Linked DNA regions of Homo sapiens. The protein of the gene in region 2 interacts with the protein of the main gene of each other region in a pairwise test. Each region holds a gene or a part of one and is shown on either strand. Other genes may lie near its edges. The genes, in order: TCF7L2, CRX and BANF2.

The links.
Region 1: the proteins of CRX (region 2) and TCF7L2 interact in binary tests that used the Homo sapiens proteins (3 or more experiments, as listed by UniProt).
Region 3: the proteins of CRX (region 2) and BANF2 interact in binary tests that used the Homo sapiens proteins (3 or more experiments, as listed by UniProt).

What each region holds. Positions count from the first base shown.
Region 1 is NC_000010.11:113,163,113-113,166,861, reverse strand, and holds part of TCF7L2 (transcription factor 7-like 2), read right to left. Parts: intron 1,308-3,749; coding exon 890-1,307; 3' UTR 1-889. UniProt on the Homo sapiens protein: Participates in the Wnt signaling pathway and modulates MYC expression by binding to its promoter in a sequence-specific manner. Acts as a repressor in the absence of CTNNB1, and as activator in its presence.
Region 2 is NC_000019.10:47,831,864-47,835,612, forward strand, and holds part of CRX (cone-rod homeobox protein), read left to right. Parts: intron 1-2,545; 5' UTR 2,546-2,580; coding exon 2,581-2,680; intron 2,681-3,749. UniProt on the Homo sapiens protein: Transcription factor that binds and transactivates the sequence 5'-TAATC[CA]-3' which is found upstream of several photoreceptor-specific genes, including the opsin genes.
Region 3 is NC_000020.11:17,723,840-17,727,588, forward strand, and holds part of BANF2 (barrier-to-autointegration factor-like protein), read left to right. Parts: intron 1-1,183; coding exon of another isoform or gene 1,184-1,186; coding exon 1,187-1,312; intron 1,313-3,749. UniProt on the Homo sapiens protein: May play a role in BANF1 regulation and influence tissue-specific roles of BANF1.

The DNA.
Region 1 (3,749 bases), on a different chromosome or scaffold from region 2:
CCATTTGGTGACATCTGGGTTTCATACAGAAAAAAAAAAGTCAAAAAGGGGAAACAAAAATATATATACACATTTTATATATAAACTTAAAAACCTTGTACAAATGAGTTGTTATATATAAGATGCTTATGCTAAGGGGGAAAAAAACTTTATACAGTTTCAAGAAAAAGGAAAACATATTTAAAAAGGGACGACATACAGGTACGACAAGCAATCTCTAAAGCAATAAATACTACTGGCCCAACAGCGTTGTGATTCTATTAAGTGTTGAGTAGCGTCCCCTCCCCCCAAAAGAACAACACCATGGAACAAGGTATATTAACACATTTTTACCCTTTGTTTCTGTACATTTAAACAATAACAAGTAACATCACAATAAGAGTTGTTTCACACAGAAAAAAAAAAAAAAAGTAACGGCACTGCATTCATGGTGCCCTTACGGTTTAAAAACCAGATGTAAAATGATTGGTTCGCAAGCTCGTATTTAATACAAATAATACAGAACCAACTCCTTCTGGAGGGCTGCTTCAAAATTGCTTTTTTTTTCTTTTTGTTTTTTAATCAGTCTTTTAAAACTAAGCTATCCGAACTACATAACAGTTATGTATATATATATATTTTTTAAACGCTACAAAGACTTTAAACAGCTGTTGATAAAAATTTTGGTAGAATCATGAGGTTCTTCTCTCATCTACATATTTAAAAGGAGAAATTGAAATAAGAATGGGTCAAATATTGACCAATGAACTCGATAAACATCAACTAATGTAGCCACATGGCACAAAATTAAGAGAGTACAAAACAAAACCTTTCAAGGTGGGGGTGGGGGGCAAATTAAGAAAAGTGAAACAAAACCATAAACAAAGCAGCGGGGTTCACGACGCTAAAGCTATTCTAAAGACTTGGTGACGAGCGACAGCGGCTGGGGCTGGGTCCCGGCCAGGGAGCTGTGGGAATGTAAGGAAGAAGTCGACGGCTGTGCAATTGATGAGGAGGGGGCGGCAGGCTGCAAAGCGGCTGGGGGCAGGTCCAGGGCCCCGTTGGGACAGAGGGCGGAGGCCTTGTGGGTGGCCTCAGCGAGCAGGAGGGCGGGTGGCGGAGGCATCATGGACAGGTGGGCCAGGGGGTCGGGCTTCAGGGACAGCGACAGAGGCTGGGTCTGCTCAGTCTGTGACTTGGCGTCTCGGGGAGGGGAGCCTAGCAGGTTCGGGGAGGGGGGAGGCGAATCTAGTAAGCTTCCATCTGAAGAGGGTGGGCTGAGGCAGCTGCCTTCACCTTGTATGTAGCGAACGCACTTTTTTTTTCTCCTAGAAACAGGGGAGAGAGTTATCTGTGAATAGAGGGCACAGATGCCAAGGGAGAGAGTTACCTAATGCTCACACCCAAGCTGAGGTCACCTAAGGGATGTCCCACAGAGGTGGCACGCCCAGTGGTCCGAGGACAATTACAGTGGCGCCCCCCCAGGGTGGGTCGCTTACTTCACAGTGCCCAGATCTAAGCCTGCTCTGGCAAACAACTTATTTAAGAGTCTGAACTCTCTACTTGCTTCCCCCAACCCCTACTAAACACCCATGCCCCACCATGCCCAAATTATATACGAGAGCAGCATGGAGGCGGCCACCTGCAGATGGTGGCATCTATTTGCCAAAAAGTGGCTTTGTCCAAATTGAGAAGAACTGAAAAGCTCTTTTGGCTTAGACAGTCCCTCACTTTCCCATCAAGTTTCCTCGGCCCTTCACTCCCATTCCCACCACTACCACCCCCATCCCCCAGTGATGTGTGTGTGTGAGTGTGTGAGTGTGAGTGTGTGTGTGTTTAAAAGAGAAAGACAGAGCTCCTTCCCCAGCCGCCTCGTATCAATATGAAACTCTCAAAATGCTCACTGTTGAGCCCACATAGCTGAAGGCAGCGCTAGCAAGAGGCTTAAAGGTTTTAACACACCACCACCATGAGGCTGCTGGCGCCCAGAGAGCTTTCGGGCTTGTCTGTTAAGAACCACACCAAATCAAGAGAGGTCAGAATCAGGTGAGAAGGGAGGAAGGGAAACAAAAATAAAACAAAATAAACTTAAAACAAAAACAAAAAACAAAAAACGAAACAAAAAAAAGAAACCACCAAAAACAGGTAGAAGAGGATAAACAAAGGTGGGGGAGGGGGAAGAATAAGAAAAACAGAAAATGATTCAAAGGAACGAGAATAACTGGTTGTATGGCCTGCAGGTTGTGGATTAAATTAAGATTCAAACTTGATTTTTTTTTTTTTTTTAAGATTTGGGGCTTTCCCCTCCCCCACCCCGTAGTGAGAAGGTTGGAAGGAGAGATGGTGAGGATGGGATGGATGGAGGGGCATCCTGCTCTTGTCAATATGCCAAGGCTAGTCAATGGAGGGTGCAGCACAAGCCGGTCACCGAAGTGACTACAAAGAAGAAGTGCCAGGGAATCGCAGCATGGACCTTCCTGGGTTTGGGTTATCGTGATTCGTGTTTAAACCAGAAAGACTAATTTTGCCCTGCACCAAAACCAGCATCTCCCCTCTTCACTACTCATTCATGTAAGAAATAGGAATGAGAATTTCAGAGCCCTTCTTGCTTAGCATCAAAGGATGAGGTCGGGGAAAATCAACTCAAGAAATTGAGCATGTGACTTCAAAGCTTCTCCTCCCATTAATCCCAGTCTGATGGGATGGTATTTGGTAAGGAAAGGTGAGCCTGGGGATCAACCCCACTAATGCTATAAAAATAATGCAGATACAGGAAGTGTGCTCATCTAAGGACCCTAGAATATTGTCAGAACCATGGCTGATAACACTCCAACTGGAAACACGTGTGTAAGCACTGGCCAGCTTTCTGCCGCTGGAAGCAACCAAGATGCTGCCTGCTTGAAGGCAACCACTGTCAGACAATGTCACTGGCCTTGGAAAGGAAGGGTGTGCTGAGTTCCTCCTCTCAGTCTGTGCCCCAGAGCTGTCTGATCATGCCCCTCTGTGCTTGGGGTTTGGACTCAGCAAGATGGCAGGAAGGCAGGGAAGGAGGGGAGGGGTGTAAGGGAGCATGCTCAGTCCTCCCTGCCTCCCAGAGGCTGAGATTCATGGGGGCTAGTGGCCTCAGGGTCTGTCTGTTCCTTCTGGGTCAGAAGGAACTCTAGGGGAGCAAGCACCACCCCCTCTCACCCTCAATTTGGCAAGGTTCCTTTTTCTCCCTGGGAGAGAGTAAATAGACTATGGGTTCTGCTTCCATCCCAGAAACCAAGATAAATAATTAAGCCTCTCAGAGTTTTAAACCACCTTAGCCTGCAGATCAAAACATGCTCAAAAAACTAAGATGTCCATGCATTTTAAAAATGGGAGAAGGAAAGGAGGTGGGGAGGGGGAGGGCATAAGCAAAACTGAGAAAGCAACAGAGAAAAACAGAGAGAGGAAAGGAAAGGGAGAAAGAAAGAAGCAGGGAGAACAACCAGGAAGACAAGGGAACAGCACCAAGCAGCATTCCATGCTATATTAGGGCAGAGTGAAAAGATGGGAAAAGCAACTTGGTGGGCTCAAAACAGAATCTTGTTAAAATGTCCACAAATGTCAAATGAAACTAGAAACCTTGTGTGGCAAGCTAGAAGCCCTGATTGGCTAGGAGCATTCTGGTACCTTCCTCACCCCTCCCACCCTCATGACGTGGAAGTTTCCAGATCATAGGAATGAGAGGGGTATCTGGAACACGGGACATGAAGACTATGGCGACAGAGCAATGGGTCTCCTAA
Region 2 (3,749 bases):
TCCAGAGTAGCTGGGATTACAGGCGCCTGCCACCACGCCCGGATAATTTTTGTATTTTAGTTGAGACGTTTCACCATGTTGGCCAGGCTGGTCTCGAACTCCCGACCTCAGGTGATCCGCCTGCTTTGGCCTCCCAAAGTGCTGGGATTGCAGATGTGAGCCACCACACCTGGCCCCTAGAACAATTTTTTAAAACTATATAATGGAGATCTTTTAAAATCAGTTCAGAGAGCAGCCTTATGTTTTTTTTTTTTTTTTTTGAGACGGAGTCTCGCTCTGTCGCCCAAGCTGGAGTGCAGTGGCTTGATCTTGGCTCATTGCAACTTCTGCCTCCCGGGTTCAAGCGATTCTCCTGCCTCAGCCTCCCGAGTAGCTGGGATTACAGGCACGCGCCACCATGCCCGGCTAATTTTTGTATTTTCTGCAGAGACGGGGTTTCACCATGTTGGCCAGGCTGGTCTCGAACTTCTGACCTCTGGTGATCTGCCTGCCTTGGCCTCCCAAAGTGCTGAAATTACAGGCATGAGCCACTGCGCCCAGGCTTACTTTAAAAAAAAAATTAATTTTTTGTAGAGACAGGAGAGTTTCGCTATGTTGCCACCTGAACATAAATGCTATTTTCTTTTTCTTTTCTTTTCTTTTTTTTGAGACGGAGTCCGTAGCCCAGGCTGGGGTGTGGTGGCACCATTTTGGCTCACTACAGCCTCCGCCTCCCAGGTTCAAGCGATTCTCCTGCCTCAGCCTCCCAAGTAGCTGGGACTACAGGCGTGCACCCCTGTGCCCAGCTAATTTTTGTATTTTTAGTAGAGACGGGGTTTCACCATGTTGACCAGGCTAATCTCAAACTCCTGACCTCAAGTGATCTGCCTGCCTTGGTCTCCCAAAGTGCTGGGATTACAGGTGTGAGCCACTGCGCCTGGCCCATAAATGCGATTTTCATTCCCATTTTCCAACAAGGCGACTGAGGTATACATTGAAGGTGAATTACTAGGACAAAAGAAAGATGGCATTTTACTTCAATAACAGTTTGTTACAACCTGTACTGCTACCTATCTGCCATGGGAGTGTGCCTTTCCCCACACTGACACCAGTGCTGGAAGTTATCAACCTCCTTCATCTTTGCCAACCTGATAGGTCAAAAGTGATCATGGAAGATCCACACTCGCTTTTTTTTTTTTTTTTTTTTTGAGATAGGGGTCTATTTCTTTTTCTTTTTTCAGAGATGGGGGGTCTCACTATTTCTTTTTCTTTTTTTCAGAGATGGGGGTCTCACTATGTTGCCTAGGCTGGTTTTGAACTTCTGGGCTCAAGTGATTCTCCTGCCTTGACCTCCCAAAGTGCTGGGATTACAGGTGTGAGCCGCCTTGCTTAGCCCTTACTGTCGTTTTTTTGTTTGTTTTTGTTTTTGTTTTTTTGTTTTGTTTTGTTTTGTTTTTGAGACAGAGTCTCGCTCTGTCGCCCAGGCTGGAGTGCGGTGGTGCGATCTTGGCTCACTGCAACCTCTGCCTCCCGGGTTCCAGTGATTCTCCTGCCTCAGCCTCCCAAGTAGCTGGGATTACAGGCACCCGCCACCACACCTGGCTAATTTTTGTATTTTTAATAGAGATGGGGTTTCACCATGTTGGCCAGGCTGGTCTTGAACTTCTGACCTTAGGTGATCCATCCATCTCAGCCTCCCAAAGTGCTGGGATTACAGGCGTGAGCCACCTTGCCTGGCCCTTACTGTTGGTTTAATGCCACTCTCCCTTAGGGTGACCAACCAATCCAGTTTGCCTGGGACCATTCTGGCTCTAGCACTGAAAGTCCTGTGTTCCAAGAAACACCCACCTCTCCTCCAACCTGGGCAAAGAGGGACGGTTGGTCAACCTGCAGTCCTGGGTTATAAGTGAGGCTGAGCGTGTTTGCCCATGGTCAAGAAAGAAGGGATCTTGGATGAGGGTGTGTAACAGGATCAGATTTGTTTTGTTTTTTTCTTAGAGTCTTGCTGTGTCACCCAGGCTGGAGTGCAATGGCCTGAACACAGCTCACTGCAGCCCCAAACTCCTGGGCTCAAGTGATCCTCCCACCTCAGCCTCCTGGGTAGCTGGGATTACAGGCATGCATCACCACACCCAGTTAACTTTTTAAAGAACACTTTTTTTTTTTTTTTAAGAGACAGGGTCTTGCTATGTTGCTCAGGCTGGTCTCAAACTCCTGGGCTCAAGTGATCCTCCCGCCTTGGCCTCCCAAAGTGCTGGGATGACAGATGTGAGCCATTGTGCCTAGCCAGGACGAGATTTTTAGAGGGTAGAGTAGGAATAAGAGCTTGCACTTATGAGGCACATGATGGCTTCAGCTGTCTGCTTTGCAGAGTCTCAAGAAAGCTCTGAGAACCTTAAGCAGAGGCCATTTTACATGTGAGGACACAGAGGTACAGAGAGGTGAGATAAATGGCCAAGGTCACATACCTAAGAGGAGAAGGAGGCAGGATTTGAATCGCAGCCTGCACGTCACCCCATGGTGAGTAACTGGTAAGTGAGTGAGCATCCCTCCTCTTCTCTTGCAGGCCCCCTGACTTGGGCCTCAGTGTCCCCGAAGATCATGATGGCGTATATGAACCCGGGGCCCCACTATTCTGTCAACGCCTTGGCCCTAAGTGGCCCCAGTGTGGATCTGATGCACCAGGCTGTGCCCTACCCAAGTGAGTACAGTCGTTTCTCTTGGCACCCCAGGCTGGCCTCATCTCTTGGAGGACCTCTGGGGTCCCTTTGCCCCCAGGAAGAAGGCAATCACAGGGGCGACTTCAGGGCCATACACCAGCCCTCTGGGTTCATCTGAAATGTATGTCACTTAGAAAAACATTAGCAGTCCTAGAAATTCAGGACAGAGGTTCCTTTTGGGGTGAGGAAGAGGGGATGTAATCTGGAAGGGGAATCAAGAGGAATTTTCATCTGTTACCAAAACTTTATTATTTATTTATTTTTCAGAGACAAGGTCTCACACTCTGTCACCCAGGCTGGAGTGCAGTGGTGGTGGTCACGGCTCACTGCAGCCTCGAACTCCTGGGCTCAAGCAATCCTCCCACCTCAGCCTCCTGAGTAGCTGGGACTGCAGGTGTGAGCCATTGTGCCTAGGCCCGGGGGGCACTTTTTTTTTTTAATTTTATTTTTGAGACAGGGTCTCACTCTGTTGCCCACTCTGAAGTGCAATGGTGCAATCACAGCTCACTACAGCCTCGAACTCCTGGGCTCAAGCGATCCTTTTGCCTTGGCCTCCCAAATAGCTAGGATTACAGGTGCACGCCACCATGCCTGGCTAACTTTTTTAAGTTTTTGTAGATTTTGCAGGATCTGGATTATACAAAACATAGAAAAAATTATTATTATTTTTTTTTTTGTAGAGATTGGGTCTCCCTATGTTGCCCAGGCTGGTCTCAAACTCTTGGGTCCAAATAATCCGCCTGACTCAGCCTCCCAAAGTGCTGGGATTACAGGCATGAGCCACTGCACCTGGCCTGCAAAGCCTTATTTCTTTTTCTTTTTTTTTCTTTCGAGACACAGTTTAGACGGAGTTTCGCTCCTGCCCAGGCTGGAGTGCAATGGCGCGATCTTGGCTCTTTGCAACTTTTGCCTCCCAGGTTCAAGTGATTCTCCTGCCTCAGCCTCCCAAGTAGCTGGGATTACAGGCGCACACCACCATGCCCGGCCAATTTTTGTAAAGCCTTATTTTTAAGAGAAGTGAGTACTCAGTTATTTGTAGCATTATTCTTT
Region 3 (3,749 bases), on a different chromosome or scaffold from region 2:
CAAAAATTAGCCGGGTGTGGTGGCACACACCTGTAATCCCAGCTACTCGGGAGGCTGAGGCAGGAGAATAGCTTGAACGCAGGAGGCAGTGGTTGCAGTGAGCCAAGATCATGCCATTGCACTCCAGCCTGGGCAACAAGAGCGAAACTTCATCACAAAAACAAAACAAAACAAAAAACTGGAAGATGGCAACCCTCATTTAACAAAATGGCCGGTTTTGCTGGGATGCAGACCTAATGCTTATGGAACCCATGATATTTCGAGATCTTCCAGGAAATATTCAGGATGTTAGCTACCTCTGGCAGTCTTCATTAAGGTCCTAGGAGACTCAACTCCTGGGAGATGGTGGTCCATTTAAAAGTGGAGAGGGATGAAAATAGTTTTGCTAAGACAGAGAGTCTTTTTGCCTGGGGCCTGCAATCTAAAGTTGCAGGAAATTGATGAGCAAGTCCTGCTGTTTGGGAAAGCTGATTTATCTGGCTAAAGTTAGAGCACAGGCAACAAATGAGGTGACTTAAGCAAAAGCCACCTTCTCTTCCTTCTTTTGAGGTGGAGTTGGTGAGGCCAAAGAGTGCTGGAGCAGCCCTTTCACCACCATGAGGGGAGCCAAGCAAGAATAAAGCCAACACAAGGAGGGAAAGCTGGACAATCCCTGAGGAATGGCGCTGCGACCCATTCCCACCTGCAGGCTTTGGATTTCTATAATGTGTTCTTTACAATTTGAGCCAGTTTGAAGAGTTTCTAGAGAGTTTACACTATTATACAGTGTGATGAACACTGAAATAAAAGTATGACTAAAGTGTTGGGTGGTTAAGAGAGAAGGTGGGTTAATTAGCTAAGAGAAGTAAGTTGTTGCTTTAGGCATTTAGAATGGGGTGAGTTGGAAAGAACCCACTGCAGTTCTTAATATTAAGCACACTCTTTTCGTGGAAATTTATTTGACTCATCTGTGGCCATCATTCGGCTTCTGTTTGTCCATCCAGGTAGGAATGGATGTGTGAAGGCCTTAGTGGAGGCCAGTGCACCTGCATTTAGTAGACCCCGGGAAATGCTGGATGATGGAAGGAATTCTGCCATCTGTTGCCCCAGTCCCTTGGTGGGCTGAGGGAGTTCCCCAGTGTCCATGCACACTGGGAGAAGTCAGGTATCTGCTAATCCTCCTCTCTCCCCACTGCTGTCGCAGGAGATGGACAACATGTCTCCCAGGCTGAGAGCCTTCCTCTCCGAACCCATTGGAGAAAAGGATGTCTGCTGGGTGGATGGCATCAGCCATGAGCTCGCGATCAATTTGGTCACCAAAGGTATCAATAAGGTAATTCATATTTTCTTACTTCTCTGACTTCTCTTCCCTACCTTTCTTCCCCCAGTCCTGCCAGATGGCAGTTCCTGCCACGTGTCCCTGTGAAGGGCCATCAGAGAGCAAAGCTGCCGCTTGGCGGGGTGCCACATGCTTTCGTGCTATTGACCCCACATGCTCAGGCAGCCTCAAGGGCCTGCAGATGATGGGCACATACACATAGAATGGCTTCAGTTCAGAGCAGCTGGGCTAGGCATGATTCACTTGGTGTTCAAACACTCAGGGATCAACAGAAGTAGGTCAGCCGCCGGGGTCTGAGATGAGCTGTCAGGATGGATGATTTAGGTGCACTCCATGCCCCCATGAAGGGACTCATGGCATCTCGCTTGCCCCTGCCAGGGCACCAGCCTGGCAATGGGCAGGTGAAGAAACAGGAGCCTGGGGTCTACACTAGAGTGAGTTATTCTATGATGTCACTCTCAGCCCAAGAATGACCTCAAGGATATCCAGTGGAATTGGAATATTCTTTTCTACGTCATTGTTTGTTTTTATGGGGCTTTTAAAAAGCTGCTTAGGGCCTCAGGAGAGGATGAGACAGTCCCAAAGACAACGCAAAGAGAGTGAGCACAGACAAGGCAGGCTGTGAACTCACAGAACATGGCACGCCCGGTCAGGAGAGGCACCAGCTAGAGCTGTTGCTCTTCATTCTCCTCAGTGCCCCAAGTCAGTCTACCAGGCGGGACAGTGTTACAGAAACACCCAAAGAGGCTGGGAACTGCTGCACACATGGCTGACGACTAGTTTGGTTTGCATCTACATCTGAACCATGAGAGCCATGGTTTTCTGATTACCCCATTGCTCTGCACTAGCTGGTAAATACTCAGAATAACACCCCAATCTGTGAGCCAGTTTAATGTCCAGTAGATGGTATCATCAGAAATGGAAGTGCCCCTATTGGGTAGATTGGATTCTTTCCTGCCAGACGAAGGAGGGAGAACCATTCTCTGGGGAACAAATTTTAAATGAAAAAATTTTTGTACTTTTATTATTTATTTATTTATTTATTTGAGACAGGGTCTCACTCTGTTGCACAGGCTGGAGTGCAGTGATGCCATCTCGGCTCACTGCAACCTCTGCCTCCCAGGCTCAAGCGATCCTCTCACCTCACCCTCCCATGTAGCTGGGACTACAGGTGTGTGCCACCATGCCTGGTTAATTTTTTGTGTTTCTTGTAGAGACAGGGTTTTGGCATGTTGCTCAGGATGGTCTCGAACTCCTGGACTCAAGTGATTCAACATACCTCGGCCTCCCAAAGTGCTAAGATTATAGGTGCAAGCCATCACACCTGATGAAAAATTCCTTTTTTAAAAAAAGAAATCATTCTTCTTTTTACTTTCCTATTGTGATGTAACATACCGAGGAGAATATGTGTTGATATAAAGGAATTCACAGATCAATGAATTTTTACACACATATGTACACCTATGTACCCACTACCCAGATCCAGCAATCAGATGTCTCCAAAATTCCAAATGGTTCTCTTGTGCCTCTTCTTGGCCAAGGCTATCCCCTATCCTTAGAGGTAACCACTCTTCTGATGTCAAACAGCATTGATTAAATGTGTCCATAATTGTGGGGTTTTGTGGTTGTTGTTCAGCTATACTCATTATTTTAAAAATGTTTTTATTAAGGTATAATTGACATACATACATTAAATTTCACCCTTTTTAGTACATAGTTCTATGAGTTTGGACACATGCATGCAGTGATGCAGCCGCTACCATAGTCAAGACACAGAGCAATCCCATTACTCAAAATATTCATTTCCTTGTGCTCTTCATATTCACCAGCCTCAGTCCCTGGCAACCACTGATTTATTTTCTGTAGTGTTGCCTTTTCCAGTTTAAGTCTGTGTGTGTGAATAGCTTAACTGTGTTTTAAATGAGGATTATAGGTGGGTGGGTTTTAGAACAAAAAATGAATGAATAATGGAAAAATGTTAGGCATCTGAAAACTTGCCTGTCGAGTCAGGGCTGTGGGGACGGTTTGTCTGTGTGCAGCCGGGTCCCTGGAGATGTGCTCCTCTTGTGTCCATGACCTCCTGGCCAGTGCAGTGAGCACTTTCCTAGAGCTGCTAATTTTAGGCACTGGCACTGGGGCTGTCACCTGTATCCTTCGCTTTGAGCCGCCCACACCCGTGATTGAGATGAGGGTCACTCTCTCCACTTTACCAGTGAGGAGACAAGGGCTCCGAGGAGCAGTGCCTTGTCCGCTCCCAGGTGAACTGGAGCAGCCGTGGATTGTACTGTCACAAATTGCACAAGAAGATCTGTGGCCAGGCGGTTATGCCCGGCAGGGAGGAGGCTTAGACTAAATTTGGGGGTGAGAGCCTGTATCAGGGTCTGGAGTCCGGCTGGGCCTGTAGTGAGACCCAGGAGGAGACCCAGATGCG